Linked DNA regions of Homo sapiens: region 2 is linked to region 1. Evidence: fine-mapped expression QTL. A gene starts in region 1. The other region holds a variant in brackets. All regions are shown on one strand. Distances are from middle to middle.

What was found. PIP is the estimated chance that this variant, and not a neighbour inherited with it, causes the effect.
Region 2: its variant is fine-mapped to the expression of TRAPPC14 in whole blood (INTERVAL, PIP above 0.99).

What each region holds. Positions count from the first base shown.
Region 1 is chr7:100,152,922-100,168,123 of GRCh38, forward strand. TRAPPC14 (trafficking protein particle complex subunit 14) reads right to left here and starts at 5,802. Exons shown (of 11, transcript NM_018275.5): 1 at 5,168-5,802; 2 at 4,922-5,017; 3 at 4,712-4,841; 4 at 4,452-4,538; 5 at 4,173-4,293; 6 at 3,924-4,071; 7 at 3,713-3,795; 8 at 3,465-3,628; 9 at 2,750-2,904; 10 at 2,341-2,534; 11 at 1,502-2,243. The coding sequence starts at 5,578. The coding sequence ends at 2,090. GAL3ST4 (galactose-3-O-sulfotransferase 4) reads right to left here. Exons shown (of 4, transcript NM_024637.5): 2 at 14,050-14,362; 3 at 13,581-13,884; 4 at 6,323-8,038. The coding sequence starts at 14,174. The coding sequence ends at 7,007. It overlaps MIR4658 (microRNA 4658), which reads right to left and starts at 3,748; the gene lies at 3,684-3,748. LAMTOR4 (late endosomal/lysosomal adaptor, MAPK and MTOR activator 4) reads left to right here. Exons shown (of 4, transcript NM_001008395.4): 3 at 479-596; 4 at 946-1,282. The coding sequence ends at 1,043. RefSeq lists silencers at 4,909-5,085, 5,117-5,266, 5,297-5,936 and an enhancer at 7,383-7,882.
Region 2 is chr7:100,115,139-100,130,340 of GRCh38, forward strand. CNPY4 (canopy FGF signaling regulator 4) reads left to right here and starts at 4,496. Exons shown (of 6, transcript NM_152755.2): 1 at 4,496-4,724; 2 at 7,121-7,247; 3 at 7,343-7,439; 4 at 7,646-7,768; 5 at 9,376-9,493; 6 at 9,587-10,370. The coding sequence starts at 4,607. The coding sequence ends at 9,750. It overlaps MBLAC1 (metallo-beta-lactamase domain containing 1), which reads left to right and starts at 11,829. Exons shown (of 2, transcript NM_203397.3): 1 at 11,829-11,926; 2 at 12,230-13,357. The coding sequence starts at 12,258. The coding sequence ends at 13,058. TAF6 (TATA-box binding protein associated factor 6) reads right to left here and starts at 4,220. Exons shown (of 15, transcript NM_139315.3): 1 at 4,066-4,220. RefSeq lists enhancers at 4,173-4,322, 4,533-4,752, 5,123-5,192, 10,399-11,068, 11,779-11,848 and silencers at 12,049-12,168, 12,259-12,738. The variant C/G (reference allele first, on the strand shown) is at 7,879.

The sequences.
Region 1 (15,202 bases):
GGCGGGCAGATCATTTGAGGTCAAGAGTTTGAGACCAGCTGATTAATATGGTAAAACCCCGTCTCTACTAAAAATATAAAAAATTAGCTAGATGTGGTGGTGCTGGTACGTGCCTGTAATCTCAGCTATTTGGGAGGCTGAGGCAGGAGAATCACTTGAACCCGAGAGGCCGAGATTGCACCACTGCACTACAGCCTGGGTGACAGAACGAGATTCCGTCTCAAAAAAGAAAAAAAAAAAAAAGATGGATAAGTTACTGCTCATCCGGGGAAGGCCAGTATTATGGGAAACAGGATGGCATCCGGAGGGTGACAACATTATAGGGGGAGATTTCAGGTTGTTTTTTTCCAAAGCTGAGGGTACTGGCAAGCCAAGGGGGAGAGGGTCTAAGTGTGAGAACCAAGGGGACTGTGCCTGGAATTCCTTCCTGAGCCTGTGCCGTAATGCCCGCCCCTCTCCCTCCTCCGTCTGCATGCAGTCATCTGGGGACCTGGAGAATGATGAGCAGGCAGCCAGTGCCATCTCTGAGCTGGTCAGCACAGCCTGCGGTTTCCGGCTGCACCGCGGCATGAATGTGCCCTTCAAGCGCCTGTCTGGTGAGCCCCTGCCCCTGCCCTTGGTGGTGGTACTGGGAGCGGGGGGCTACTTCCAGGGGCTTCTCGGCTTCTCTTCTTCCAGCCTCCTACCATCTCCTGGGGTCTCTGGTCTGGCCACTTTCCTCCCTTTGGGACTCCCTGGTATCAGAATTGTGAATGAGAAGGCAAGAGAAAGGAGATCTAGCAGAGGCCACTCATCTTCAAATCTCTGAGCCTGGAACTATAGAACTTCTTTGGCTTTGATCCCAGCCAATGTGCGTGTGGCCCCGCCCCATGGAGTCTGTTGCACCCACTAACTCTGTGCTCCCTTCCCTCTCCTGGGGCGGGGGAAGGTGTGTCTCTCCTCCAGTGGTCTTTGGAGAACACACACTGCTGGTGACGGTGTCAGGACAGAGGGTGTTTGTGGTGAAGAGGCAGAACCGAGGTCGGGAGCCCATTGATGTCTGAGCCTGCCGGAGGGCGAGGGTCGGAGAAGCGGATTGGGTCCTGGGCCTCTGTGATGAGGCAGGCACACCTGTCGGTCTTGGCTTGCTGCTAGAACTAGGGCCTTCTGCTCGCCCACCTCCCACCCCTACCTGGACGGGCCCAGGCTTGGGGACTCTGAGCTGTGTTAAGGAGAACAAGGGCAAGGAGACCTCCCTTTGTGCTCCCTCACTCCCTAATAAACATGAGTCTGATGTTCTCCAGCCCAGGGACATGTGTGTTTAGTGTTGGAATGGTTACACCCCATGTCTGTCTTCCACCTTCTGGGGAGAAAGTCATGCACCTTAGCCCAAGTTGGGTGCGGCAGGGCCACCTCTGTGTGCTATAAAACTGGGAAGCAGAAAAAGCTGGAGGGGAAGGGAGTCACCCTGAGCCCTGGCGACCTCTGCTCTTCCCATCAGTACACAAACTAGTCATCCTTCTCCCTCCTGAACAGGCATTTAATAGTCTTATTTCAGTTGGAAGCAATAGTTGGAAAATAAGTTACAGGAACAGACCAAAAAAAAAAAAATTAAAGTGCTTCAGGCTGCAAACGTAAACATAAGGGGCAGGAGGCTACCTGGCCCTGTCCCCAACCCCTGAGACAGGAAGGTCACTGTCAGGGGCCCTTAGCCATCACCACCCTCTAATCTCAGCCCTGCGGGAGGGAGGGAGGGAATGTCAGAGGTGGGAAAGAACTCAACGGGAATGAGGAAGAGACTTTGTAAACTCAGAACCAGGGTAAAGGGCCGGGGACAAGGGAGCTCTGGGAACCCTTGCCCTGGCCTAGGGGTGGGGCCAGCCCCCCCCACAGGAACTCGGGGAATACTGGTGGCTTAGTCCCAGCCATGCCCGCCCACTTCACAGCTTCTTCCCCCATCCCTCATCAGCAGACACAAGACAGGCAGCTCTGCCAGGCCTCTTCACCCCCGTCTGGGAGGCATCCCAGGGGAGGCACAGCCCGGGAGCAGGGATCCCCTCTGGGGGCGTTGGGTCTCTGGAGTGTAAGAGGGAACAGAGCTGGCACGGTGCTACTTGACGGGTTCCACCACCAGGACCTTGCACTCGCGCTTGGCAATCTTGTCCAGAGACAACACAGCCTTGTCCGGGGGCAGGTAGAGGGGGCGGCCAACAGGAGAGGCCACAGGGGGCGTGATGGCTCTGCGCTCCATCACACTGCCCGACCTGGGGGAAGGCAGAGGCTGTGGGCGCTGGTCAGACCCGGCACCCTCGCTGCTCCCATCCTCTACCCGGTCCCATGCCACGCCCCCTGGTTCTGTACCTCATGAGGTGGCTTCGGGAAGGCTGCTGGTGGGAGAAGGACTGGGAGCGGCCCAGGCTAGCCTGATGCCTCTCCACCAAGTCCCGGACAGCAGGGCTGCTGGGGCTGCTCTTGCGGGAGAGGGGCCGGGCCTCGGGTGGAGGGTGGGACACGCTGGCGGTGAACTGCAGCTTCAGTTTCATGTGCTGGCTTAGCTGGGGGGAGACACAGGTCAGCATGCCAGCTCGGCTTCCAGGACCCAGGCCTCCTTCCAAATGGTCTTCCCCATGTGACAGACTGATGTCAAATCTAAATCCCACCTTCCCTCTGCCCAGCTTTTTATTTCATCCCCAAAATCTAAGGGTCCTGCCTCCGTCCACCCCAGCATTCTGCATCACTCAGCACTCAGCCCAGACCCTCCCCAGCCCACCTCGAAGAGCCCCGTCCTCAGAGCCTGGAAGGCCACACTGAAGGTGAGCGCGCTGCCCTTCCGGGAAAAGCCAAGGTTGTTGAGGGGCGTGTGGCAGACGACGGAGTCCAGGGCAGCCTGCATGGCCCGGCGCTCCTCCTCACACAGCTGCTTTCCTGGGGGCAGAAACAGGGACCAGCAAACACTACAGCGTTCCTCATTCCCACAGGGCCTTCGCCAGCACAGTCTCATCTGATTCTCAAAGCCACTCTGTGGAGTAAACTGAGCAAACGTTATCTTTTGTGCATGTTGTAGATAACAACAGCTAATACGTACTGTGTGCAAGGCACGTCACGTATATTAACTCAGTATCTGCATGACAGCCCCATCAGATATGAGTTGCTCTATTTTAAAGGTGAGGACTCTGAGGCCCAGAGAGGTTAAGTAACTTATTCAAGGTCACACAGCTAGTAAAGGAGAGAAGTAGAGTTCACACCAGCGAGTGCAGCTCCAGTGTCTATGCCCTGAAAGTCACTCTGCCCCACTGCCTCTCTAAACTCTCCATCTAGGACACTGGGGAGACCACCCAGGTACAGGGCGGAAGCCACCTGCCACAAGTCGCCTCCTGTGATGGGGCTGGCACCAAATTTGGCTGTTTTCACTGTCCTGCCTCCCTGACTTTTTCCTTTCTCTTCCCCTCCCTGGGGACCAAATTCCTACCTGGCAGCTGACCTACCAGCCTGTGCATGCTCTGGGGTCCACACGAGCCTCACAGCAAGGAAGTCTTGGAGATTGTTAAGCAGCGTGTAGGTGACAGTGAAACGCTCGTAGGTCCGAACAGGGGACTTACAAGAAGCGGTCATCACAAAACACGGGCGGTCCAAGCGGACACTGGGCAGGCTAGGAGTGGTGAGAGAGGGATGCTGGCTGTGTGTGTCAGGCCACAAAGGCGAACGCCACGATTCCTCCAGGATCCACACTCACCGGTAGTGGGTGTAGATGCTCTGAGTGAAGGGCAGCTTTGGGGTAGACCACTGAACCACAGCAATCAGGGGAACTTCCAGGCCCTGCAGGAGGGACAAAGGGGGTTGGCACAGGTATTAAGAGTGCCCCTCCCATCTTGAGTCAGCTGCCTGGTCTTTCCCTCCCACTGCCTTATCACTTTTCTTTGAACACACCAGCCCCTTATGCTCACCTCCTTGGCCCCTGGAGGGGGCTGCTCACCCCCTCTCAGCTGAAACAGGAAGTTGTGTTCCTCCAGGGCATTCAGCGGGCAGGGGAAGCAGCCAGAGGTCCCGGGTAGGCGGCAGAAGGAGCCCATGGAGACTTCCCCAGACTGGTGACTAGCTCAGAAAAGAGGACAAGGCATGGTCTCCCCATGCCAGAGCTCAGCCCCTGAAGCCATCCCCACCACTTCACAGCCTCGCCCCTCCCAGGACCTCACCAGACATTGTCCACCAGCAGCACAGAGCCATCGGGCATGACAGGTAGATAACTGGCGTTGAAGTTGGGGAGGATTCGGATATCCCAGATGGAGATTTCCTCCTGAGAGGAGCTGTTCAGCACTGTGGGAGAGGACCAGCTTGGCTCAGAATAGCTGGACCCCTCAGGCCCCACCTTTACCCAGAAAAAACCGGACCTACCCCACCAGCCTGCCCAGAGGAACTGCATCCAATCAGTTCCCTTGTTGCTCCCGGAGGCTGGAGCCGGCAGCCCTGCTTACCCTTGAGCACGGTCAAGTGTTTTCCAGCCACAGTGAACTGCCGGCATCTCAGAACCGGAGGGGGCAGCAGAGTCAGCAGCGTGCTCACTGCGGGAGGGGGTGGGGGCAAGAAGTGATGGTCTGGAGGCTGACCTCACCTCCAACCCAGAATTCTCACCTTCCTCTTCTCAGAGCCCATTAGCCACTTTCCAGTGTGACCCCTCCCCTCTGTCCCCCAATTCCCAGACTCTAGCCCTTTGCCTCTGCGCTGCCCTGCCCACCTTGGGCCTTGAAAGCGCTCTGCTCGCCCCGGAATGTCTCCCCAGGAGATCGGGTCTGCAGCAATCGCAGGTAGCCTTGATCTCTGACCTCTGGTGCCTCAATCTCCCGCTTCCACACAGTCACTACAATCTGTCAAGAGGAAAGACAGATGGCTGAGCCCGGAAAAGGTGTCTGAATTAGGACAATAGCTCCACTCTTGCTCATCTTACCTTGGCCTTAGGTGTCCCTGGGGGCAGTCTATCCAGTGAAACGGTGAGTGGGAAGATGACCTCATCTGTGGACACAATCGGTTCCTCCACAGGCAGCTGGGGTTGGGAAAGGGGTGAAGAGGTCAGGAGCAAGTCAGAGGCAGCCTGCAGCCTTTCCCTTTAAGACCGGCAGTTCATCTGCCTCCTGCCTCAGGCCCCCAGCAAACCGCCCCTCCGTCCTGTGCCAGGTCCCCCAAAGCTCCTCACCGTGGTCGCTCCCCCTGAGGTAGCAGGGCCCGGGCCGTGGGTGAGAAGGGGGCTGCAGCCTCGGAACAAACCCCCACCCCCAGGATCCCCTCCCCCTGGGGGCTCCGAATCCTGGTCGCCGGCGCCGCCGCCCCCCGGCATCCCGCCTCCGGCGCTGACCGAGGCCAGGGCGGCCAGGGCGGTTGCCAGTTCTGCCCAGGCTCCTCTGGAGCCCAAGCCCGGGCCGCCCCCGGTGCCGGACCCCGCACCGCCCCGGCAGCGCAACACCAGCAGAAAACGGACAGTCTCCCCCAAGTACAGATGGTTGCGCCGGGGCAGCGCCCGGTACCGGCCCGGATCCCCTGCCAGCTCCGCGCGCGGCGGCAGCGGCACGGCCGGGAAGTACATCGAGTAGTCGCACTGGGACTCCATGGGGCGGCGAGGACGGCGCGACTGGGAGCCCGGACCGGAGGCCGACCGCCGGCGGGGCCCGCTAGGGTGGGTCCAGAGGGTCCCGACACCTCCGGCTGCTGCGCCCGGCTGGGGCGGCCGGAGAGACCGGCCCGGTCCCGGCACCGGGGCAACGAACCCGAACCGAGACCCGGCAGCGCCGGAACCGGGGTACTGAGCCGAATGACTGGAGAGAAACAGGAAGCGGAAGGGAGGGGGCGTGGCCGCCGAGGCCCCGGAATCTGCGGGTGCCCGGACCGTGGAGGAGGGGGCGGGGTCCCGCTGCTCTGAGGCTGCGAGAATGCAGGCGGGGGCTGCGGCCAGGCTTCTTGGAAAAGAAATGGAAGACCTCGTCGGCCAGGCGGGTTGGCTCACGCCAGTAATCCCAGCACTGTGGGAGGCCGAGGCGGCAGGATCGCTTGAGGCCAGGAGTTCAAGACCACCCTGGCCAACATAGCAAGAACTCCTCTCTGCAAAAAATTTAAAAATTATCCGGGCGCGGTGGCGCGCGCCTGTATTCCCAGCTACTTAGAAGGCCTAGGCAGGAGGATCCTTTGAGCCCAGGAGTTTGAGGCTGAAGTGAGCTATGATTGGGACACTGGACTGCAGCCTAGGTGACAGAGTGAGATCTTGTCTCGGAAAAAAAAAAAAAAACAACCCTTCCAACCCCACTTCTCCCAGGAAGATTCTCCATCCCTCCCCTTTCCACCCTCCATAAATCAAGTAGAAGTTTCAAATTATTTATTCATTCAACAAACATGTCAGAGAGAAATGAACAGTCTAGTAGCAAATATTTCATAGAGAAATGGACGTATCATTCCAACTCACCACGCCCCAAACTTCCTGTGGCTCACTCCATCTTTTGCCCCTCTAGGGAGCTTCGGTGATGTGGATCTGCCTTGGGGCAGGAAAGGGGAAGGGGAGGTCAGGCCTAGTGGCTCACGCCTGTAATGGCAGCACTTTGGGAGGCAGAGTCATGTGGATCACCTGAGGTGAGGAGTTCAAGACCAGCCTAACCAACATGTTGAATCCCTGTCTCTAAAAATATAAAAATTAGCCGGGTATGGTGGCACGTATCTGTAATCCTAGCTACTCTGGAGGCTGAGGCAGGAGAATCGCTTGAACCTGGGAGGCAGAGGTTGCAGTGAGCCGAGATCATGCCACTGCACTCCAGCCTGGGGGACAGAGCAAGACTCCGTTTCAAAAAAAAAAAAAGTTGGGGGGAAAGAACAAAATGAGTGGAGGGTGGAGGAGGGAAGCACTGCTGGGAGCCCAGCGAAGAGGGGGCTTGCATCGGGACAAAGACTCATCCCTTCTGGGAGATGCAGAAATGGCATCTTGCTGCCCCCCACTCATCACATGTGCCCTTCAAACATGGCTGCTCTTCCACCTAAATCTGTAGTCTGATGTTTATGGGGAGAGTGGCCTTGAAGTCTTGAGGGGCAGTGAGACGGTAGGGGGGAACTGCTTGGCATCCAGCTTGTCCTTGTACTGGAGCTCAGGGGTAGCTAGGCGCTCACATTCCTCTTGGTCTTGGGGGCTCAATCCACTCCGAAGTATATAGCCCAAAACCTTAGCTGACCCAAACTGGAAGGGGCGGAACCGGCGATCAGTGATGTATTTGGGGTCAGAAGCCTCACCCCCTACCAGACAATGTTTCGCTAGGGCCTCTCGGCGAGCCCGGAGCTCGGCCACAGCTGTCTGCAGCCGGCCCTGGCCGTATTTCTCTATCCGTGCCCAGAGACTGCGGTTGAAGTGGACATAGAGAGCCCAGTCCAGGTTGTTCCAGGCTCGGGCCCGTGCAGTCAGCTGCCGGTCCTCCGCAGTCAGTCCACTGTTGCTGACAGTGCTGAGGCCCTGCTTATGTCCAGCCTGGGCATTGTGCATGAAGCCCACCACGTCATCTAGACCCCAGCACAGGGCATCTGCCAGCAGAACCAATGACTCATCGAAGTACTCAGCCACCATGACCAGGTCAAAGACAGAGTCCAGCCATGCCAGACCCCACTGGATGAAGGATGAAGACCCCAAATCGAAAGAGGCAGGGCTTGATATCTGGCTGCGATGATCAGTAACAGTGGAAACAGGATGGATGAGGGCATTGGGATTGAGGGTTTGGGCTCGAGGGCCAGCACCAGAAGGCAAGACCTGCAGCTGTGGGGGGTTGGGGTCTCTGGGGGGATGAATATTCCCTCTCTTGGCCCTCTTCTCTGGGGGAAAGGGCAGGCCAAAGTCAAACCATAGTAAGTTGCGAGCGTAGTGGTCCCCACGGGCCCCAGGCCTGTAGAAGCCTCGAGGATTGGCCAGGAAGGCAGCCAAAGATGGTGACTTGCGGAAGGCTGATGAGGTGGATTTATAGTAGGAGAAGGCAGAGCGAGCCAGAGCCGCTGGGTCTCGGACAATGGAAAAAAAGAAGCTGTCAGAAGGCATGACCTGAAGTACCTGCAGAGGAGGGAAGACAGAAGAGAGAGAACTGGGCTGGGGAGAAGGTATGCATAAGTATGCACAAGCCATGTGTCCGCTGACCAGCCTCCTGAAACCTCCTCCTCCCAGCTCTGCTAGGAATCCCCAGCTTCCATCACTTGCTGAGTGGCAAGTTACTTAACATCTCTGAGACTCAATTTGCTTATCTGCAAATGGGGATAATCATACTTTCTCAAGTGACTATGAAAGATACATGAGATAAAACATACAAGAAATCTGGAGCATGGAGCCAGGCATGTTTTGTGTGCCTGTAGTCCCAGCTACTCAGGAGGCTGAGGCAGTAGGATGGCTTGAGCATTGCTATGTTGCCGAGGCCAGCCTGGGCAACATAGCGAGACCCTGTCTCTACAAAAATAAAACTAAAAAGCCGGGCATGGTGGCTCAAGCCTGTAATCCCAGCACTTTGGGAGGCCGAGGCGGGCGGATTACTTGAGGTCAGGAGTTCGAGACCAGCCTGGCCAACATGGTGAAACCCCGTCTCTACTAAAAATACAAAAAAATTAGCCAGGTGTGATGGCACACGCCTGTAATCCCAGCTACTCGGGAGGCTGAGGCAGGAGAATTGCTTGAGCCCAGGAGGCGGAGGTTGCAGTGAGCTGAGATCGTGCCACTGCACTTGACAGCCTGGCCAACAGAGCAAGACTCTGTCTCAAAAAAAAAAAAAAAAAAACTAAAAAAGTTAGCAGGTCAATCAATGATAGACTGGATAAATAAAATGTGGCACATATACACCATGGAATACTATGCAGCCATAGAAAAGAATGAGATAATGTCCTTTGCAGGTGCATGGATGAAGCTGGAAGCCATCATCATGCTCAGCAAACTAACCTACTCCAGTAAACTAACAAAACTAACACAGGAACAGAAAACCAAACACCATGTGTTCTCACTCATAAGTAAGTGGGAGTTGAACAGTGAGAACACATGGACACAGGGAGGGGAGCATCACACACTGGGGCCTGTCGGGGTGGGGAGCAAGGGGAGGGAGAGCATTAGGATGAATACCTAATGCCTGCAGGGCTTAAAACCTAGATGATGTGTTGATCAGTGCATCAAACCACCAGGGCACATGTGTACCTATGTAACAAACCTGCATGTTCTGCACATGTATCCCAGAACTTAAAATAAAAATAAATTAGCGCGGTATCCTGGTACACACCTGTAGTCCCAGCTACTCAAGAGGCTGAGGTGGTAGGATTGCTTAAGCCCAGGAGTTCAAGACAAGCCTGAGCAACACAGCAAGACCCTGCCTTGAAAGAAAGGGGCCGGGTGCAGTGACTCACACCTGTAATCCCAGCACTTTGGGAGGCTGAGGCGGGTGGATCACAAGGTCAGGAGTTCAAGACCAGCCTGGCCAAGATGGTGAAACCACATCTCTACTAAAACTATAAAAATTAGCCAGGCGTGGTGGCAGGCGCCTGTAATCCCAGCTACTCAGGAGGCTGAGGCAGGAGAATCGCTTGAAGCTGGGTGGCAGAGGTTGCAGTGAGCCGAGATCGCGCCACTGCACTCCAGCCTGGGCAGCAAAGTGAGACTCTGTCTCAAAAAAAAAAAAAAAAGAAAGAAGCAGCCAGAGAGGGAAGGAGGGAAGGGAAGAGGAGGGGAGGGGAGGGGAGGGGAGGGGGGAGAGGGGAGGGAGAGGGGGAAGAGGAGAGGCTTGTCGGGGTCAGGGGCAAAGGAAGAGAGAGAGAGCATGAGGATGAATGCCTAATGCATGCAAGGCTTAAAACCTAGATGACAGGTTGACAGGTGCAGCAAACCACCGTGGCACATGTATACCTGTGTAACAAACCTGCATATTCTGCACATGTATCCCAGAACTTAAAAATTAGCCGGGCACTAATTTTAAAGGGGAGGGGAGGGGAGGAAAAGGAAGGGAAAAAAAAGAAAAAGAAAAAAAAAGAAAGAAGGGAGGGACGGAAACCTGGAGGATAGGAAACTCCTGGAGAACATTAATTTCCTCGGGCATTTCTGTCTGCCTTGGTCAGTAAAACCTCTAGGAACCAACCTTTGTACTCATTTCTCCAGCAAAAACCTGTTGAGTGCCTGGGAGGGGGCATCACTGGCAACAAAGGAGCAACTATAATGCCATCTCGGGCATAGGCAGCAGGTGGGCAGGCCAGGCCCAGAATGGCTGAGGGGTAAAGCACTTCAGGGTCTCCTGGGCATCCTAGAGGGCAAAAAACACCCTGGGCTGGGACACTGGGAAGCCACGGCTGCCTGGTAGGATGCTGCCCTGAGGGCTGGGACACGTGATTACACCGCTCTGCAAGAATGAAGGTGGAGATCAGGCTGCACCACACCCTAACGTGGCCCTGCAGGCTGATGCAGGTCAGAACCTAGCTCCTAGTCTCCTTGAAGGGTTTCTGCCTCCAAAAATGACTTCCATCATTGAATCTGACTTCTGTCTGTCATGGTGTTCCTCAATCGGCTCTGCAAGTATGGCACACCTGAATAGCAGCCTGTGAACTCTCTTTTTTTTTTTTTTTTTTGAGGGGGAGGACAGGAAATGAGCATTTTAGCTTTTCAGTGTTTATTTTCTTCTTACTATTTTTTAAGAGACAGTGTCTCCTTGCTCTGTCACTTAGGCAGCATATCATAGCTCACTGCAGCCTTGAAAACTCCTGGGCTCAAGGGATTCCCCAATCTCAGCCTCCTGAATAGCTGGGACTACAGGCACACACCAACATTCCCTGTTAATTTTTAATTTTTTTGTAGTGATGGGGTCTTGCTATGTTGCCCAGATTGGCGTTGAACTCCTGGGCTCAAGTAATCCTCTCACCTCAGCATCCAAAACACTCGGATCACAGGCATGAGCCACCATGCCTGGCCCTGCAGGTCTCTTTGAAGGCAGAGGGGAAAGCGAAGAAAACAGTCTTTGGCATCTGGACCTGGAATAAAATCCCACTCTGCCATTTACTAATTCTGTGACTTTGGGCGGGTTATTGAAGGTCTCAGAGCCATCATTCCTCCATCTAGAAATCTGAGTAACTGGGTAACACTTACCTGGAAGAATGTGCAAGTGTCTGGAACATGGTAGGTATTCAGTGAATGGTGGCGTCAGTGAAGGCCATCATCCTAGCCTCTGGAGAAACCTACCTCAAAGGTCACTGTCATTGCCTCACTCCTGGCAGTGGCCTTTCGCTGCCCATCAGAGCACGCCCATGTCCTCAGCTGGTGTCTCCAGCTCCAGCTTCAACAAGGGTGACTTTGCAGCCCCTGTGGAACTTCTACCCCCAGTACAGACGTTCTCCCTCTTACATGCACACACACACGTGCACCCCACCATGTCCTTGCTGGTGTTTTGCTCCCTCTAAGAATGCCTCATGCTGTCCTTACCACAAGCCACATCCACCTTTTCCTTTAAAACCCCCCGCTCTCGGCTGGGCACGGTGGCTGACACCTGGAATCCCAGCATTTTGGGAGGCTGAGGTGGGCGGATCACTTGAGGTCAGGAGTTTGAGACCAGCCTGGTCAACATGGCGAAACCCTGTCTCTACTAAAAGTACAAAAATTAGCTAGGCGTGGTGGCGGGTGCCTGTAGTCCCAGCTACTTGGGAGGCATGAGAATTGCTTGAACCCGGGAGGCAGAGGTTGCAGTGAGCTGAGATCGTGCCACTGCACTCCAGCCCAGGGGAAAGAGCAAGACTCTGTCTCAAAATAAATAAAATAAAAATCAAAATTAAATAATAAAGTAAAATAAACCCCCCTCTCCAGAAAGCATCACCTCTTTGGTGAATATTCTTCTCACCATTCCAGATACAAACACATGCACAAGCCTCGGAAGAAGCCTCGACTTTGGAGTGCATGGACCTGGGCTCAACTTCCAGCTCTGCCACTTTAATTTTCAATTTTATTTATTTATCTTTCTTTCCTTTTTTTTTTTTTTTTGAGACAGAGTCTCACTGTGTCACCCAGGCTGGAGTGCAGTGGCACGATCTCAGCTCACTGCAAGCTCCGCCTCCCAGGTTCATGCCATTTTCCTGCCTCAGCCTCCTGAGTAGCTGGGACTACGGGCACCCACCACCATGCCCGGCTAATTTTTTGTATTTTTAGTAGAAACGGGGTTTCACTGTGTTAGCCAGGATGGTCTCGATCTCCTGACCTTGTGATCCACCCGCCTTGGCCTCCCAAAGTGCTGGGATTACAGGCGTGAGCCACTGCGCCCGGCCTTTTTTTTCTTTTGTGAAATGGAGTCTCGCTCTGTTGCCCAGGCTGGAGTGCAGTGGCACAATCTCGGCTCACTGCAACCTCTGCCTCCTGGGTTCAAGCAATTCTCCTGCCTCAGCCTCCCGAGTAGCTGGGATTACAGGCGTGTGCCACCACGCCTGGCTAATTTTTGTATTTTTAGTAGAGACAGGGTTTCACCATGTTGGCCAGGCTGGTCTCGAACTTCTGACCTCAGGTGATCTGCCCACCTTGGTCTCCCAAAGTGCTGGGCTTAGTCCCGGGCTAAAAATACAGCTGATCCTCAAAATGTGAGGGGGTTGAAGAAGACAAGTCAGAAGGCAGTGGGGGAGGTGGGGCCCTGGTGTGACAGTGAAAGGGAGGCTAAGAAAGGGAAGGGGCGTGTTGTCCTAGGTACTTGCCAGGCTGAGGTGGGAGGATCATTTGAGGCCAGCCTGGGCAACATAGTGAGACTCCATCTCTACAAAAAATAAAATAAAAAAATAGCCAGGTGTGGTGGCATGCACCTGTAGTCCCAGCTAGTTGGGAGGCTGAGGTGAGAGGATCGCTTGAGCCCAGGAGTTTGAGGTTACAGTGAGCTATAATTGTACCACTGCATTCCAGCCTGGATGACAGAATGAGACCCTGTCTCACACACACACACACACACACACACACACACACACACACAGGCTGGGCAAGCTCACTCCTGTAATCCCAACCCTTTGGGAGGTCAAGGTGAGCAGATCACTTGAGCCCAGGACTATTTATTTATTTATTTAAGCCCAGGGGTTTGAGATCAGCCTGGGCAACATAGCAAGACCCCATCTCTACAAAAAATTAAAAAGTAGCCACGTGTAGTGGCACATGCCTTAGCCATAGCTACTCAGGAGGCTGAGGTGGGAGGATCACTTGAGCCTGGGAAGTCAAGGCTGCAGTGAGCTATGATTGTGCCACTGCACTCCAGCCTGGGCGACAGAGTAAGACCCTGTCTTCCAAAAAATAATTTAAAAACAGAAGAGTAAGGGGCACCTGGAGGGAGAGTTGGGGGCTCAGAGTTGGCAAGGCACTGATGCCAGGGAAATACATTGGTGAAAGAGAGAGACTGGAGTAAGCGCCAGAGAGAGAAGGGAGGAGGACTTGGGCTCCCAGAAACTACTGGGGAAGGGACACCTGTAGAGAGGATGGCAGGGAGCCCAACTTTGTGGCCCCTATGTCCAACTTTAGGGTGAGATGATGCCTGGGGAGCCCCCAGGTCTGGGCCCCCTCCCTTGGTGGTGTCAGCCTGAGCCCATCTGTTTCTGGTCCCTCCCACCACTGCGACACTCCTTACCTCTTTCAGGTTGAACCTCATGTGGTGACAGAGGATGTGGAAGGGGAGCTGGGTGCCTCCACCCTGTGGGCGGTAGCCTTTTACCCTAGAGGCCTGGAAGAGCTTTGGGTAGCCAAACTGGTAGCGGGCAGGGAGGGCGAAGCGCAGCCCGTGCTGGTCCCCATAGCGGTGAAGCAGGCTCAGCACAGAGCTGCTCCCGGATTTATGTGTCTTCAGGAACACCAGTCGCTGCCGGGGTGGGCAGGACGGAAGGGCTGGTCGTAGGGATGGGGCCGAGGGCTGTCGGAGCTGTAGCCCAGGTAGCCTGGGAAGAGATGGAGGGGGAGTGTCCTGTTCCTCAGCAGCAAATGGGTAGAAGGGACAGAGGGCATGGAGGCTTCTGAGTCCTCAGGAGTCACCAGCCCCAGGTGGGATGGGGAAGAGCAAGTACGGGGCGTCTAGAAGGAGTTGGGGCAAAGTGGGAACTCACCTCCTCTGGAAGGGCCCTCCCAAGAGCTGGAGTGCAAAGCCAATGGTCATGAAGACTCCCAGAGCCACCCCCAGGCTCCGAGGTCCCCAGAGCCGCAGCGTCCTGGCAGGAGAGAGAGGGCCCATGTGGCACAGGGAAGGGTGAGGTGACAGAGAGATGGAGCCAGGGCCAGGAAGAGGGGCAGAGACAGCTGGAGACAGCCGTGCAGCTGCGGAAGGCACTGGTTGGAGATCGGGGGGTCATTCCCCAGGCCTGCTCACAGTCTTGGTTGAGTCTGCCCCCTGAGTTAGCAGATTTTTGCCTCTGTCAGCGTCTAGAAGGGAAATGAGGGGGGAAGAAGGGAAGTCTAAGGAGAGAGGCAGAGGCAGCCTTCTCTCCTGCTGCAGCTGAGACCTCCTTCAGGGAAGGGGAGTGGCTGGGGATGTTGTCTATACCCAGACTCTCCTAGGTGGCCCCACAACTACTGTCTCTGCTCTATCACTTTCTTATCTCCAGTTCCTCCCGCTCCCCACCTACAGTTGTCCCTGAGCCTTGGGGATTTATAAGGGAAGGAGAGAAAAAGCCCCAGCTCGTGAATGAAACAGCCAGCAAGAGAGAGAGAGATCAGATCAATCAGCTCATTAACACAGTCAGGTCAGACCATGGTCGGGAACCTGGTTTCCTCCAGAGCCCCTCTGGCTGTCACAGATGGGGATAAAGAGCCCTATCCCAGGACCAGGAAGGGAAGCCATACAGTGGGAATGAGGATCAGACAGGACACAGGTGTATGAACCCAGGCAGGAGGAAGGGAGGTTGGACTTCCAGGAGTGGCATTGCAATGGGTAAGAGCCATTGGGTTATAAATTCCCGCGCCTCTTTTTTCTCTGTCTCAGCACGGGGCAGACCCCCATGTATGACAGGGGCTGGGGGAGACGTGTGGCTACTTATAAAGCCCAGATCCCTGGACTTACCCACCATTCCACTTTCCAACCTTATCAGTGCACCCGGAGGAGACTGAAAGGGTGGGGCTGGAGAGGGAGACAGAAAGAGAGAGAGACACACACACACACACACACACACACAGAGAAACAGAGAGAGAGAGACAGAGGGACAGAGAGACTATGACACAAAGATAAGGAGAAAGGCGCAAACACTAACTGCAGAGTTCCTTCTG
Region 2 (15,202 bases), 38 kb before region 1:
GCCTGAGCCACCAGGCCCAGCCCAGATTTTTATCTTTTTCTGTTACACCTCAGGGCTTCAATCCCACCACTTTGAAGTTTTGGGCTCAAGCAATCCTCCAGCGTTGGCCTCTCAAAGTGTTGGAATTAAAGGCGTGAGCCGAAGTGTCTGGCCCAGGCTCAGCTTTCCTTATCTTCATAGCAATGCCATCCATCCAGACACTTGTTCTTTATCTGAGCCTTCACATCAAATCCACCAGGTAGGCCAGGTGCGGTGGCTCACGTCTGTAATTCCAGCAATTTGGGAGGCCAAGGTGGGTGGATCACTTCAGGTCAGGAGTTCGAGACCAGCCTGAGCAACATGGTAAAACCCTTTCTCTACTAAAAATACAAAAATTAGCTGGGCATGGTGGCGCGTGCCTGTAATCCCAGCTACTTGGGAGGCTGAGGCAGGAGAATCACTTGAGCCTCGGCAGTAGAGTTTGCAGTGAGTTGAGATTGCGCCATTGCACTCCAGCCTCAGTGACAGATGGACTCTGTCTCAAAAAAAAAAAAAAGGTAAAAAAATAAATCCGGTCGGGCGCGTTGGCTCACACCTGTAATCCCAGCACTTTGGGAGGCCGAGGCGGACGGATCACCAGGTCAAGAGATGGAGACCATCCTGGCCAACATGGTGAAATCCCATCTCTACTAAAAATACAAAAACTAGCTTGGCGTGGTGGCACGCACCTGTAGTCCCAGCTACTCGGGAGGCTGAGGCAAGAGAATCACTTGAACCTGGGAAGTGGAGGTTGCAGTGAGCCAAGATCGTGCCACTGGACTCCAGCCTGGCGACAGAGCGAGACTCTGTCTCAAAAATCAATCAATCCACCAGGTAGTCCAACCTGACTCCTCTGCTCCCACTGCTTGGCCCAGGTCACCATCATCTATCCACTGGGTAACTCCAAAAACCTCCTAACAATGTCAACCGGAGTCTACCCTTGCCTTTCTCTACATCTATTCCTAACGTTGCAGCCAAAATGCTTCTGTCAAACTGTAAAGCAGATTGTCATTTCTTTGCTCAAACCCTCATAATGGCTCTCCACTTGCCATAAAGTAAAACCTGAAATCCTTATAATGGGCAGGTGCAGTGGCTCAGCTCATGCCTGTAATCTGTGCACTTTGGGAGGGTGAGGTGGGAAGACTGCTTGGGCTTAGGAATTCCTGACCACCCTGGGCAACATAGCAAAACCCCATCTCAGGCCAGGCACAGTGGCTCACGCCTGTAATCCTAGCACTTTGGGAGACGAAGGTGGGCGGATCACTTGAGGGCAGGAGTTCAAGACCAGCCTGGCCAACATGGTGAAACCCTATCTCTACTAAAAATAAAAAAATTAGATGGGCATGGTGGCGGGCACCTGTAATCACAGCTACTCGGGAGGCTGAGGCAGAAGAATCACTCGAACCCGGGAGGCGGAGGTTGCAGTGAGCAAAGATCTGTGTCATTGCACTCCAGCCTGGGCAACAAAGCAAGACTTCTTCTCAAAAACAACAACAACAACAACAAAAAAAACAGACGAAATCCTTATAATGTCCTACAAAGCCCTTCAAAATTACCTTCTCCCCATTATATCTCTGAACGCCCTTCCTTCTTCCACTTTGATCCAGACACATACATTCCTTCTGGCTGCTCCTTAAACTTGCCAGGTATGTACTTGCTTAATAGCCTTTGCTGCATTCCCTCTGCCTGGAATGTTCTTCCCAAATATCTAATTGGCTGCCTACCCTGACCACCCTATTTAACTCTGCACTCTGCCCTCAGAGTGGGGGCAGCCCACTTTTTCTTTTCCATAGCATTTAACATCTTTTGGGCATGGCGCAGTGGCTCACGCCTGTAATCCCAACACTTTGGGAGGCCGAGGTGGGCAGATCACGAGGTCAAGAGATCGAGACCATCCTGGCCAACATGGTTAAACCCCATCTCTACTAAAAATACAAAAATTAGCTGGGCGTGGTGATGTGCACCTGTAGTCCCAGATACTCGGGAGGCTGAGGCAGGAGAATTGCTTGAACCCAGGAGGTGGAGGTTGCAGTGAGTAGAGGTTGTGCCACTGCACTCCAGCCTGGCAACAGAGTGAGACCCCGTCTCCGTCCACCATCTAGACAGGGCTCTTTTTTTTTTTTTTTTTTTTTGAGCTAGAGTTTCACTCTTGTTGTCCAGGCTGGAGAGCAATGGCGCGATCTTGGCTCACTGCAACCTCCGCCTCCCAGATTCAAGCAATTCTCCTGTCTCAGCCTCCTGCGTAGCTGGGATTACAGGCATGCGCCACCACACCTGGCTAATTTTTGTATTTTTAGTAGAGATGGGGTTTCACCATGTTGCTCAGGCTGGTCTTGAACTCCTGACCTCAGGTGTTCCACCCACCCTGGCCTCCCAAAGTGCTGGGATTACAGGCGTGAGCCACTGTGCCCGGCCGACAGAGCTCTTTATTATGTTCACTGATGTATTCCAGGAGCCCAGCCTGGGACATCATAAATATTTGTGAAGTAAATGAATTAGTTGTAAGGCTTAGAGATATTGGTGCTCAGTAAATACTTGGTATCACTATTATTAATAGGTCATAGGCCCAAGCTTTGAGCCTACACTGTAGTTAAAAGCAAACTGGGCCGGCCGTGGTGGCTCACGCCTGTAATCCCAGCACTTTGGGAGGCCGAGGCGGGCGGATCACTAGGTCAGGAGATTGAGACCATCCTGGCTAACAAGGTGAAACCTCGTCTCTACTAAAAAATAGAAAAAATTAGCCAGGCATGGTGGCAGGCACCTATAGTCCCTGCTACTCGGGAGGCTGCTGAGGCAGGAGAATGGCGTGAGCCCGGGAGGCGGAGCTTGCAGTGAGCCGAGATCGCACCACTGCACTCCAGCCTGGGCAACAGAGCCAGACTCTGTCTCAAAAAAAAAAAAAAAACAAAAAAAGCAAAGTGGAGCCAGGTGCAGTGGCTCACGCCTGTAATTTGGGAGGCCAAGGCGGGAAGATCACCTGAGGTTAGGAGTTCGAGACCACCCTGGCCAACATGGTGAAACCCTGTCTTTTTGTAAAAACACAAAAATTAACCAGACATGGTGGCGGGCGCCTGTAGTCCCAGCTATCTGGGAGGCTGAGGTGGGAGAACCGCTTGAACCAGGAAGCGGAGGTTGCAGTGAACCGAGATCGTGCCACTGCACTCCAGCCTGGGCGATAGAGAGAGACTCCATCTCAAAAAAAAAAAAAAAGCAAATTGGAGCCAAGAGAGGTAACTCACCCCAGTAATCCCAGCACTTTGGAAGGCAGAGGTGGGGGGATTGTTTGAGGCCAGGAGTTTGAGACAGCCTGGTCAACATAGTGAGACCCCCATTTCTGCAAAAATTAAAAAATTAGACGGACCTGGTGGTGTGAACCTGTCATCCCAGCTACTTAGGAGGCTGAGGCAGGAGGATCGCTTGAACTGAGGAGTTGGAGGCTGCAGTGAGCCAAGATGGTGCCACTGCACAACAGCCTGGGTAACAGACGGAAACCCTGTCTCAAAAAAAAAACAAAAAAAAATTAAAGTGGCACACTTGCAGTTGGACATTAGGAAGATTAACATATCAATACTGCTTAGGAGTAGTACAGGTAGGGTGGGGCCGTGCTGGAAGGATGGGAAGAGGGAGGCCGAAAAACAAATTGGTTCTTTTCAAACCATCCCTGATCTCCTCCCCGACTTTTATAAGTCTTATCTATAGGGAACACAACTATTCGAGACATACTCTGTGCCTGGCGCCGGGTTTACAAGAGGGGGTCGTGTCCCACTTCCCTGGCGAACTCCTACGAATCCTTCAATACCCGGCGGTACCCTCTGCCAGTAAAGGCTCATAAAACACGCTACAGTCACAGGATCTCCTCAGATCAGTGGAGGCGGCAGGAAGGCGTCCCAGGGAAGGGTTAACTTAAGCGAGATCCCAGCAGAGAAGCAGGTCGAAGATCCCCGGGCAGCGCGAAAGGAGGTTCAGAGAGCCCACCCCATCTCCTGCAACATCTCTCCAATGCAGGCACACACACGGGGTCCCCACGAGCACAGACACACAACCAACCGTCCTCTTTCCAGTCCCCACAAGGGACCTTCAAAGGGTCTCCTCCGGGGTACCACTCAGACCCGCCCCCGCCACCCGAGCGCGGGGAGCAGGAAAACTCTAGCGGCAGCCGAGACGCTGCTCACCCGGCGCTCGGCGCCATCTTGGCCCCGCCCCCTCGTGGGAGCAGGTCCTGGCAGAGCCTAAGAGCAAGTCACTGCCCCTTCCCCGTACCAGAATAAGTCCTCTAGGCTCGCAGAATGAAATTATATTTTAAAAGTTTGTTTCTACATCTATATATAAGGAGCACTCCCTCTTGGTGTAATTACTGCAATTTATTCCTTCACTACCCGGCTGCCAGGACCTTCAAGAGGCGCCACAAAACGGAGGCAGGGAAACCCGTAGCAACGAGGCCCCACCCTTGTTGGGCTGATCCTGCGCATGCGCCGACCTTCCTCGGCTGGATTTAAGGTTGCCGCTAGCCGCCTGGGAATTTAAGGGACCCACACTACCTTCCCGAAGTTGAAGGCAAGCGGTGATTGTTTGTAGACGGCGCTTTGTCATGGGACCTGTGCGGTTGGGAATATTGCTTTTCCTTTTTTTGGCCGTGCACGAGGCTTGGGCTGGGATGTTGAAGGAGGAGGACGATGACACAGAACGCTTGCCCAGCAAATGCGAAGGTATTTGAAGGGGGTAGCCCCTATAGGCATCGCCCGGCCACACCTCCTTCTTCTAGGCCGGACATCCTAGCCTGTATTGGGTGGGTCACCCGACCTCCTTGAAGGCTTGAGGGAGGTTCTGGTGGAGCTTGGCTGAATTTGGATGGGGTCAAGGAAGCGAACGTGTAGTGCCACCTCAAACTGCATCCAGAGAGAGCCTGCATTTTTTTGGCTGGCTTGGAACCCCCCGCCCGCCAATGGATTGTGGGAATTGTAGTTCAGGGACCATCGGCCCGGGACTGCCAACTTTTAGAGCATCTTCAGTGAGTGTTTACCTCATGTCACCAGACCTTAATCTGCAGAGGCTGCAGGAGCCGGGTGTGAGGCTCAGGCCTTGTGGACATCCGCTGCCCTACCCTAGCATAGACGCTCCCAAATTACAGGCCCCACACCCCGCTGAGGGGGTTTGAGGGTGAGTAATTCAGCCTTTGAAGCTCATAAACAAAAGGAAGCCACACAACTAGGAGAGTGTCCCCATCCGGTGAGACTTTGCAGACGGTGCGTACTATATGGATTTTTCAGCAAGCAGCGCCTTCCATAGCTGCACTAGCGTGGGGCCCAGTTGAGAAAGGGGGCTGGCCCTGATGCCCTAGTTTGCTGCCCTCCTGACTTTACGTTTCTTCCCTGGATTCCTTTTCTCTTCGCTTCACCCCCTCAACTGTATTCCAGTATCATGAAAGGCAGTCATGACAGTCTCATGACTTGGTCCTCATCTCTGTCTCCTTTCACCTCCGTGTGCCGCTCTTCTCCCCTGACCTGTCAATCTTTTTAAACAGACTTAATCACCTAATTGTATCAGTCCTTGCTTTAACACCTCTGCAGGCCTTCTATCAGAATACAGCCAACGGGCCTGGGCACAGTGGCTCACATCTGTAATCCCAGCACTTTGGAAGGCCAAGGTGGGAGGATCACTTGAGCCCATGAGTTCAGGCCCAGCTTCACCACAGCTTGTCATCCTTGGTTTATCTGTCCCAACTACACTGACAGAGACCTGTAGATAGAGATAATAGGTCTTATTGCTGTCTATATTGTTAGTATGCATACAGAAGGAGCTCAATAAATAACTGCAGGATAACAGTGAATACTTATACAGTGCTCACTATGTGCCAGCCTTTATATATGTTGATTTATTTAATCTTCATCACACTCCTATGAGGGACATACTATTATTATCCAATTGTATTAATTTTATATATATATATATATATATATATATTTTTTTTTTTTTTTTTTTTTTTTTTTTTTTTTTCTCTTTTCAGACAGCGTCTCATGCCGTTGCCCAGGCTGGAGTGCAGTGGTGCAATCTCGCTCACTGCAACCTCCGCCTCCCGGGTTCAAGCGATTCTCCTGCCTCAGCCTCCCAAGTAGCTGGGATTACAGGCGCCCGCCACCATGCCCAGCTAATTTTTGTATTTTTAGTAGAGACAAGGTTTCACTATGTTGGCCAGGATGGTCTCAATCTCTTGACCTCGTGATCCACCCACCTCAGCCTCCCAAAGTGTTGGGATTACAGGCATGAGTCACTGTGCTGGCCTATTTATTTTTAATGTATTTTACTTTTTTTAAGATGGAGTCTCCCTTTGTTGCCTGGGCTGGGGTGCAGTGGTGGGATCTCAGCTCACTGCAACCTCCACCTCCTGGGTTCGAGTGATTCTCCTGCCTCAGCTTCCCGAGTAGCTATTACAGGTGCGCACCACCACACCTGGCTAGTTTTTGTATTTTTAATAGAGATGGGGTTTCACCATGTGGGCCAGGCTGGTCTTGAACTCCTCAAGTGATCTGCCCGCCTCAGCCTCCCAAAGTGCTGGGATTACAGGTGTGAGCCACCACTCCTGGCCTATTATCCCATTATAAAGATGAAGAAACCGGCCGGGCGTGGTGGCTCACGCCTGTAATCCCAGTACTTTGGGAGGCCAAGGCGGGCGGATCACAAGGTCAGCTGATCGAGACCATCCTGGCTAACACGGTGAAACCCTGTCTCTACTAAAAATACAAAAAATTAGCCGGGCGTGGTGGTGGGTGCCTGTAGTCCCAGCTACTCGGGAGACTGAGGCAGGAGAATGGCGTGAACCCAGGAGGCGGAGCTGGCAGTGAGCCGAGACTGCGCCACTGCACTACAGCCTGGGCGACAGAGCGAGAGTCCGTCTGAAAAAAAAAAAAAAAAAGATGAAGAAACCGAGGCACAGCAAGCAGGAAGATTGCCACACAGCTGCTAAATGGCTGAGCCAGGATTCCAACCCAGCCAGTCTGGCTCCATAGTCTGCACTTGTATGCTCTGCTGCCTCAGGTCATCTGCAGAATGAATGGCTGGTGTGTTTGTCTTTTACCTCCCCCCGGACGTTTCTCCTCCCCACCAGTGTGTAAGCTGCTGAGCACAGAGCTACAGGCGGAACTGAGTCGCACCGGTCGATCTCGAGAGGTGCTGGAGCTGGGGCAGGTGCTGGATACAGGCAAGAGGAAGAGACACGTGCCTTACAGCGTTTCGTGAGTCCTTCGTGCTCCTCCCCTTTCCAACCCCCAACGGAGCCCTGGGAGTTCCTACAGCATCCAGGGAATCTTTGTTTCCTCTCTTTCCACAGAGAGACAAGGCTGGAAGAGGCCTTAGAGAATTTATGTGAGCGGATCCTGGACTATAGTGTTCACGCTGAGCGCAAGGGCTCACTGAGATATGCCAAGGTCAGACCCTTCCCCAGGGCAGGACCCCACTTCTCAGATACAAAGATCTGTATCCCCTGAGGCCCTCCAGAGGTTATCTGCCCATCATCTCACCATCATGGAACTCACCCTTGAATCTCCAGTAGTTGACAAAACTGAAATGGCAGAAAGGGGAAGGGAGGGGTGGGGTGGTGAGCTGGGCTGATGCCAAATTCTTAATCTCTCAGGGTCAGAGTCAGACCATGGCAACACTGAAAGGCCTAGTGCAGAAGGGGGTGAAGGTGGATCTGGGGATCCCTCTGGAGCTTTGGGATGAGCCCAGCGTGGAGGTCACATACCTCAAGAAGCAGGTAGGATAAGACACTGCACCATCCAGGGAGGTGAGAAGGGAACCTGAGAGGGGAGCTAGGTTCTAGGGTTTGACTATAGGGGATGTCTACCCCTAAGCATGGGGAAGGGG[C/G]CAGAGTGAGGACTGTGCCATTGATTAAAGTGGGTCCAGGAGCGGTGGGGTGCGGTGGCTCACACCTGTAATCCCAGCAATTTGGGAGGCTGAGGCAGGTGGATCACCTGAGGTCATAAGTTCGAGACCAGCCTGGCCAACAAGGCAAAACCCCGTCTTTAATAAAAACACAAAAGTTAGCTGGGCGTGGTGGTGCACGCCTGTGATCCCAGCTACTTGGGAGGCTGAGGCAAGAGAATTGCTTGAATCCAGGAGGTGGAGGTTGCCATGAGCCAAGATCGCACCATTGCACTCCAGCCAGGGCGACAGAGCAAGACTCCATCTTAAAAAAAAAAACAAAAACAAAAACAAAAAAAAAGAAATCATAATGAGCCGGGTGGAGTGGCTCACAACTGTAATGCTAGCACTTAGTGAGTCTGAGGGAGAAGGACTGTTTGAGACCAGAGTTAGAGACCAGCTTGTGCAACATAAGAGACCCCCTTCTCTACAAATAATAATAATTTTAAAGAATTTTTTTTTTCAAGACGGAGTTTCACTCTTATTGCCCAGGCTGGAGTGCACCGGCACCATCTCGGCTCACCGCGACCTCCGCCTCCCGGGTTCAAGCCATTCTCCTGCTTCAGCCTCCCGAGTAGCTGGGATTACAGGCCCCTGCCACCACGCCCAGCTAATTTTTTGTAATTTTAGTAGAGACGGGGTTTCATCATGTTGGCCAGGCTGGTCGAACTCCTGACCTCAGGTGATCCACCCGCCTTGGCCTCCCAAAGTGCTGGGATTACAGGCATGAGCCATTGGGCCCTGCCTTAAGGAAAATTTTTAAAAAGTAATAATGGGCCAGGTGCGATGGCTCACGTATGTAATCCCAGCACTTTGGGAGGGCGAGACAGGCGGATCACGACATCAGGGGTTCAAGACCAGCCGGGCCATCATAGTGAAACCCTGTCTCTACTAAAAATACAAGAATTAGCCGGGCGTGGTGGTGTGGTGGCATGCATCTGTAGTCCCAGCTACTCAGGAAGCTGAGGCAGGAGAATCACTTGAACCCGGGAGGCGGAGGTTGCAGTGAGCTGAGATCCCACCACTGCAGTCCAGCCTGGGTGACAGAGCGAGACTCCATCTCAAAAAAAAAAAAAAGTAACAATGGTTGCTAATGATATCCACCATCACTTATTGAGCACCTACTGTGTCCCAGACTCTGGACCAGATACTTTGCATCTGTAGCCTCATTTTACCCTTAACAGCCTGATGTGGTAGGTGCAATTACCATACATATTTTACAGGCAAGGAGCTGAGACTCAAGAGTTTAATAATCTACTTGGCAGAATAGGTGCTGGTAAATGTTTGTTGAATGAATGAGGATTGCACATCTAGTAGGCCAAACTTAGCTTCCTGGCTACCTGCCTCTCCAAAATCAGTCAGGTTGAGCAGGGAGAGAAGACAGGCGGGATCCCAAATCCCTCCAGAGCAGATACTCTTCTGGCCCTTCTACTTGACCAGTGTGAGACCATGTTGGAGGAGTTTGAAGACATTGTGGGAGACTGGTACTTCCACCATCAGGAGCAGCCCCTACAAAATTTTCTCTGTGAAGGTCATGTGCTCCCAGCTGCTGAAACTGGTAAGCGTAAGGGTTGAACTCCTCTCCTGCCAAGCCATAGCCTCCCCTGCCTCCAGGACTAATATCTAAATTGTTTTCTGTCATCCGATCTAGCATGTCTACAGGAAACTTGGACTGGAAAGGAGATCACAGATGGGGAAGAGAAAACAGAAGGGGAGGAAGAGCAGGAGGAGGAGGAGGAAGAGGAGGAAGAGGAAGGGGGAGACAAGATGACCAAGACAGGAAGCCACCCCAAACTTGACCGAGAAGATCTTTGACCCTTGCCTTTGAGCCCCCAGGAGGGGAAGGGATCATGGAGAGCCCTCTAAAGCCTGCACTCTCCCTGCTCCACAGCTTTCAGGGTGTGTTTATGAGTGACTCCACCCAAGCTTGTAGCTGTTCTCTCCCATCTAACCTCAGGCAAGATCCTGGTGAAACAGCATGACATGGCTTCTGGGGTGGAGGGTGGGGGTGGAGGTCCTGCTCCTAGAGATGAACTCTATCCAGCCCCTTAATTGGCAGGTGTATGTGCTGACAGTACTGAAAGCTTTCCTCTTTAACTGATCCCACCCCCACCCAAAAGTCAGCAGTGGCACTGGAGCTGTGGGCTTTGGGGAAGTCACTTAGCTCCTTAAGGTCTGTTTTTAGACCCTTCCAAGGAAGAGGCCAGAACGGACATTCTCTGCGATCTATATACATTGCCTGTATCCAGGAGGCTACACACCAGCAAACCGTGAAGGAGAATGGGACACTGGGTCATGGCCTGGAGTTGCTGATAATTTAGGTGGGATAGATACTTGGTCTACTTAAGCTCAATGTAACCCAGAGCCCACCATATAGTTTTATAGGTGCTCAATTTTCTATATCGCTATTAAACTTTTTTCTTTTTTTCTAAAAACTAGCTGGGCCCAAAGTTTCAAACAACAGCCGGGCACACATAGCTAGCTGGTCGATGAGGCAGCACCCAGAATGGCCGCTGTCTTGTTAAGCTCAAGCTCCAGCCTGAGCAACATAGTGAAACCCCAATTCTACACACACACACACACACAAAGAAGACTGCAGGGCTGGTGGTGCAGCGCCTGTAGTCCCAGTTACTGCAGAGGTGGAGATGGGAGGATCACTTGAGTCCAAAAGGTCAAGACCAGCCTGGAGGCTGGGCGCAGTGACTCACACCTGTAATCCTAGCACTTTGGGAGGCCGAGGCAGGCGGATCACCTGAGTGTAGGAGTTCGAGAGCAGCCTGGCCAACATGGAGAAACCTCGTCTCTACCAAAAATACAAAAATTAGCCGGGCGGCTGGGCGCGGTGACTCACGCCTGTAATCCCAGCACTTTGGGAGGCCAAGGCGGGTGGATAACAAGATTAGGAGATCGAGACCATCCTGGCTAATACGGTGAAAGCCCGTCTCTACTAAAAATACAAAAAATTAGCCGGGTGTGGTGGCAGGCGCCTGCAGTCCCAGCTACTCGGGAGGCTGAGGCAGAAGAATGGCGGGAACCCGGGAGGCGGAGCTGGCAGTGAGCCAAGATCGTGCCACTGCACTCCAGCCTGGGTGATAGAGCGAGACTCCGTCTCAAAAAAAAAAGCCACGCATGGTGGTGGGCGCCTGTAATCCCAGTTACTCGGGAGGCTGAGACAGGAGAATCGCTTGAACCCAGGAGGCGGAGGTTGCAGTGAGCTGAGATCACGCCACTGCACTCTAGCCTGGGCGACAGAACAAGACTCCGTCTCAAAAAAAACCAAAAAAAATTTAGAGGGGCGTGCACGCCTGTATTCCCAGCACTCCAGGAGGCTGAAGCAGGAGGATCGCTAGAACCAGGGGTTCAAGACTGGGGCGAGCTATGATGGTGCCCCTGCACTCTAGCCTGGGCGACAGGGCGAGACTGTCTCAAAAGAAAAAAAGACCAGGCGCGGTGGCTCACACCTGTAATCCTAGCACTTCAGGAGACCAAGACTGGAGGATCGCTGGAGCCCAGGAGTTCCAGACCAGTCCTGGCAACAGAACTAGACCGTGTCTCCAAAAAAAAAGAGAAAGAAAAAATAGAAACCTTAGCTGGGCTTGGTGGTGCGCATCTGTGGTCCCAGATACTCGGGACGCTGAGGCGGGAGGATCACATGAGCCCAGGAGGTTGAGGCTGCAGTGAGGTATGATCGCGCCACTGCACTCCTGCCTGGGCAACTGAGCATGAACCCTCCTCAAAGCTAATGGCGCTTCAAAATTCTGCAGTGCAAAGAAGTTGCTGGGGTTGCGGAGCGGAGAACCGCCAGGAGGCTGGAGCCCAGCCAGGCAGCCTCCTCGGGCACACGGTGAAGGCGCCGGAACTACAGCTACCTCCGCGGCGCCGCTTCGGCCGCCATATCTGGGTACACGGGAACCGCAGAGGACAAACTCTCACCCGCGTTTTCGATTTCTGCGCTTTCTTCGAGTGAGGCAAGACCTAGCAGAGGCCCAAGGTAGAGCGCGGCTAGGATTCGATGGAGGGAAACATAAAGGATAGCCTTTGGAGGGTGACGGGCAAGGACGTACGTACCGCGAACGGAATGGGGCGGGGGCCGAGGACGCCGAGGGAGGGGCGGGCCCAAGTGTGAAGGGAGTCTGGGCGATACCATTTTGGGCAGGGGTTGAGGGTGATACCAACTTAATGGGAGGCGGGTGGCAGAGAACCGAGGCTTAGGGGCAGTGGCGGGGCCGAGCGCGGGTGGGGGATCGCGGAGGGACAGGACGGTCGCCCACTGCTCCATTTCCTTTCTCCCCAGCCCGTCCCTCCCTGCCAGGAGCAGCCTCATGCGGACCGAGCCGCTGTGCGGGGCATCCCCTCTGCTGGTGCCCGGCGACCCCTACTCTGTGGTGGTTCTGCTGCAGGGCTACGCGGAGCCAGAGGGTGTGGGCGATGCCGTGCGCGCCGACGGCTCCGTGACCCTGGTCCTACCCCAGACCCGGGGCCCGGCCTCCAGCCACCGAGAGTCCCCGCGCGGGAGTGGCGGCGCAGAGGCCGCCCTGGAGGAGGCGGCCCGTGGCCCCATCCTGGTGGACACCGGGGGCCCCTGGGCTCGGGAGGCGCTGCTGGGGGCGCTGGCGGGGCAGGGCGTGGCCCCGGGAGACGTGACGCTAGTGGTGGGGACCCACGGGCACTCGGATCACATCGGGAACTTGGGGCTGTTCCCAGGCGCGGCTCTGCTGGTCTCGCACGACTTCTGCCTTCCCGGAGGCCGCTACCTGCCCCACGGGCTGGGTGAGGGGCAGCCCCTGCGCCTGGGCCCGGGGCTCGAGGTGTGGGCCACGCCGGGCCACGGGGGCCAGCGCGACGTGAGCGTGGTGGTGGCCGGCACGGCTCTGGGCACCGTGGTGGTGGCGGGAGATGTGTTTGAGCGAGATGGGGACGAGGATTCGTGGCAGGCACTGAGTGAAGACCCCGCAGCCCAGGAGCGGAGCCGGAAGAGGGTCCTGGTCGTTGCCGACGTGGTCGTACCTGGTCACGGGCCCCCCTTTCGAGTGTTAAGGGAAGCCTCGCAGCCCGAGACGGAGGGTGGAGGGAACAGCCAGCAGGAGCCGGTGGTCGGAGACGAGGAGCCCGCCCTGCACTAATCAGCCTCGAGAGGGACTGCACTCTTGTCAGGGAAGCCCTAACAGCGAAGAGCTGCTGGAGACAGAGTCAGAGCAGTCAAGGGTGGGAGCTTCCAGCCCTTCCAGGAGGCCAGTTTTCTAGTGAAGACAGAGTGCACCTGACACTGCCATCACATCGTCAGTATCACTGCCTGTCTCTGCCACCAAACTAAGATCAAAGGAGGGGCTCAGCTCCCTGTGCATTCTCCCTGGGCCTCAGTAAAATGGGAGAAGGTTCGTGGGAGGGGCCTCCAAAATAAAAATGGAAACTGCATTGAAAATCATAGTGCCCTAGTGTAAATGTGAAGCATTGACAATGATAATCGTGCAAACATGGTAATCTACAACTACAGCAGAGGCATACTTTGGCCAATTGCCCCTTTCTTATAGGATGGAGGTTGCTGAGAGAAGGTACAGGGCATAAAGATGACCCCTTAGTCACCTGACTTATGTATTTGTTCATATTTTTTTGTCACACAGGCTAGAGTGCAGTTGTGCAGTCATAGCTCACTGCAGCCTCCAGCTTAAGCCATCCACCTGCCTCAGCCTCCCAAGTAGCTGGGATGACAGGCAAGTGCCACTATGCCCCACTAATTTTTTTTTTTTTTTGAAACACGGTTTCACTCTGTCCCCACAGGCTGCAATGCAATAGCACAATCTTGTACTGCAGACTGCACTGCAACCTCTGCCTCCTGGGTTCAATTGGTTCTTGTGCCTCAGCCTTCCCAGCAGCTGGGATTACAGGCTCACACTACCATGTCCAGCTAATTTTTATATTTTTAGTAGAGAAAGGGTCTTACCATGTTGGCCACACTGGTCTCAAACTCCTGGCCTCAAGTGATCTGCCCATCTCAGCCTCCCAAAGTGCTGAGGTTACAGGTATGAACCACCATGCCTGGCTATCAGCTAATTTTTTTTTTTCATTTTTTTTCAGAAATGGTCTCACTGTGTTGCCCAGGCTGGTCTTGAACTCCTGACCTAAAAAGATCCTACCTTCTCAGGCCCTCTGCATTTTTTTTTGCTGGGATTACAGGCATGAGCCACTGTGCCCTTCCCCAAGTGTGATGATTTAATATCTGTTTTCTTTCAGCAGCCGGATTGCTCCCATGGGCATGGGATGGGGCCACACCTGCCTGGCTCTCCTATGCTTGGGACCTCCAGCACCTTGGACAACCTCTGGCACAGAGTAGGGCGGGGTGAAACAGCAACAGATGCCTGAAGTGAGATCCTAAGAGCTCACAGAGCAGACCAGTTCTACTTGCTCTAAGCACTTTCTGTACATTATTATTATTATTATTATTGACTGAGTCTTGCTCTGTAACCCAGGCTGGAGTGTAGTGGTGCAATCAAAACTCACTGTGACCTGGAACTCCTGGGCTTAAGTGATCCTTCCACTTCAGCCTTCAGCCTCCCAAACTGCTGGGGTTACAGGCGTGAGCCACCGTGCCCAGCCCCATCCATTAACTTATTTGTTCCTCATCGCAGCTCTGAGCTAAGTACTATTATTATCTTTCTTTCTTTCTTTCCTTTCTCTCTCTCTCTCTGTCTCTTTCTTTCTTTCCACAGAGTCTCACTCTGTTGCCCAGGTTGGAGGAGTGCAGTGGCTCGATCTCGGTCAATGCAACCTCCGCCTCCTGGGTTCAAGCACTTCTCTGCCTCAGCCTTCCGAGTAGCTGGGATTACAGGTGCCTGCCACCGTGCCCAGCTACATTTTTTTTTTTTTTCTGAGACGGAGTTTCACTCTTGTTGCCCAGGCTGGAATACAGTGGCACAGTCTCAGCTCACTGCAACCTCCGCCTCCTGGGTTCAAGCGATTCTTGTGCCTCAGCCACCCGAGTAGCTGGGACTACAGGCGCACACCACCACATCTAGCTAAATTTTCTATTTTTAGTAGAGACAGGGTTTCACCATGTTGGCCAGGCTGGTCTCGAACTCCTGACCTCAGGCGATCCACCCACCTCAGCCTCCCAAAGTGCTGGGATTACAGGCGTGAGTCACTGCGCCTGGCTTTTTGTATTTTTTTTTTTAAGCGGAGATGGGGTTTTGCCATGTTGGCCAGGCTGGTTGAACTCCTGACCTCAGGTGATCCAGCTGCCTCAGCCTCCCAAAGTGCTAGGATTACAGAT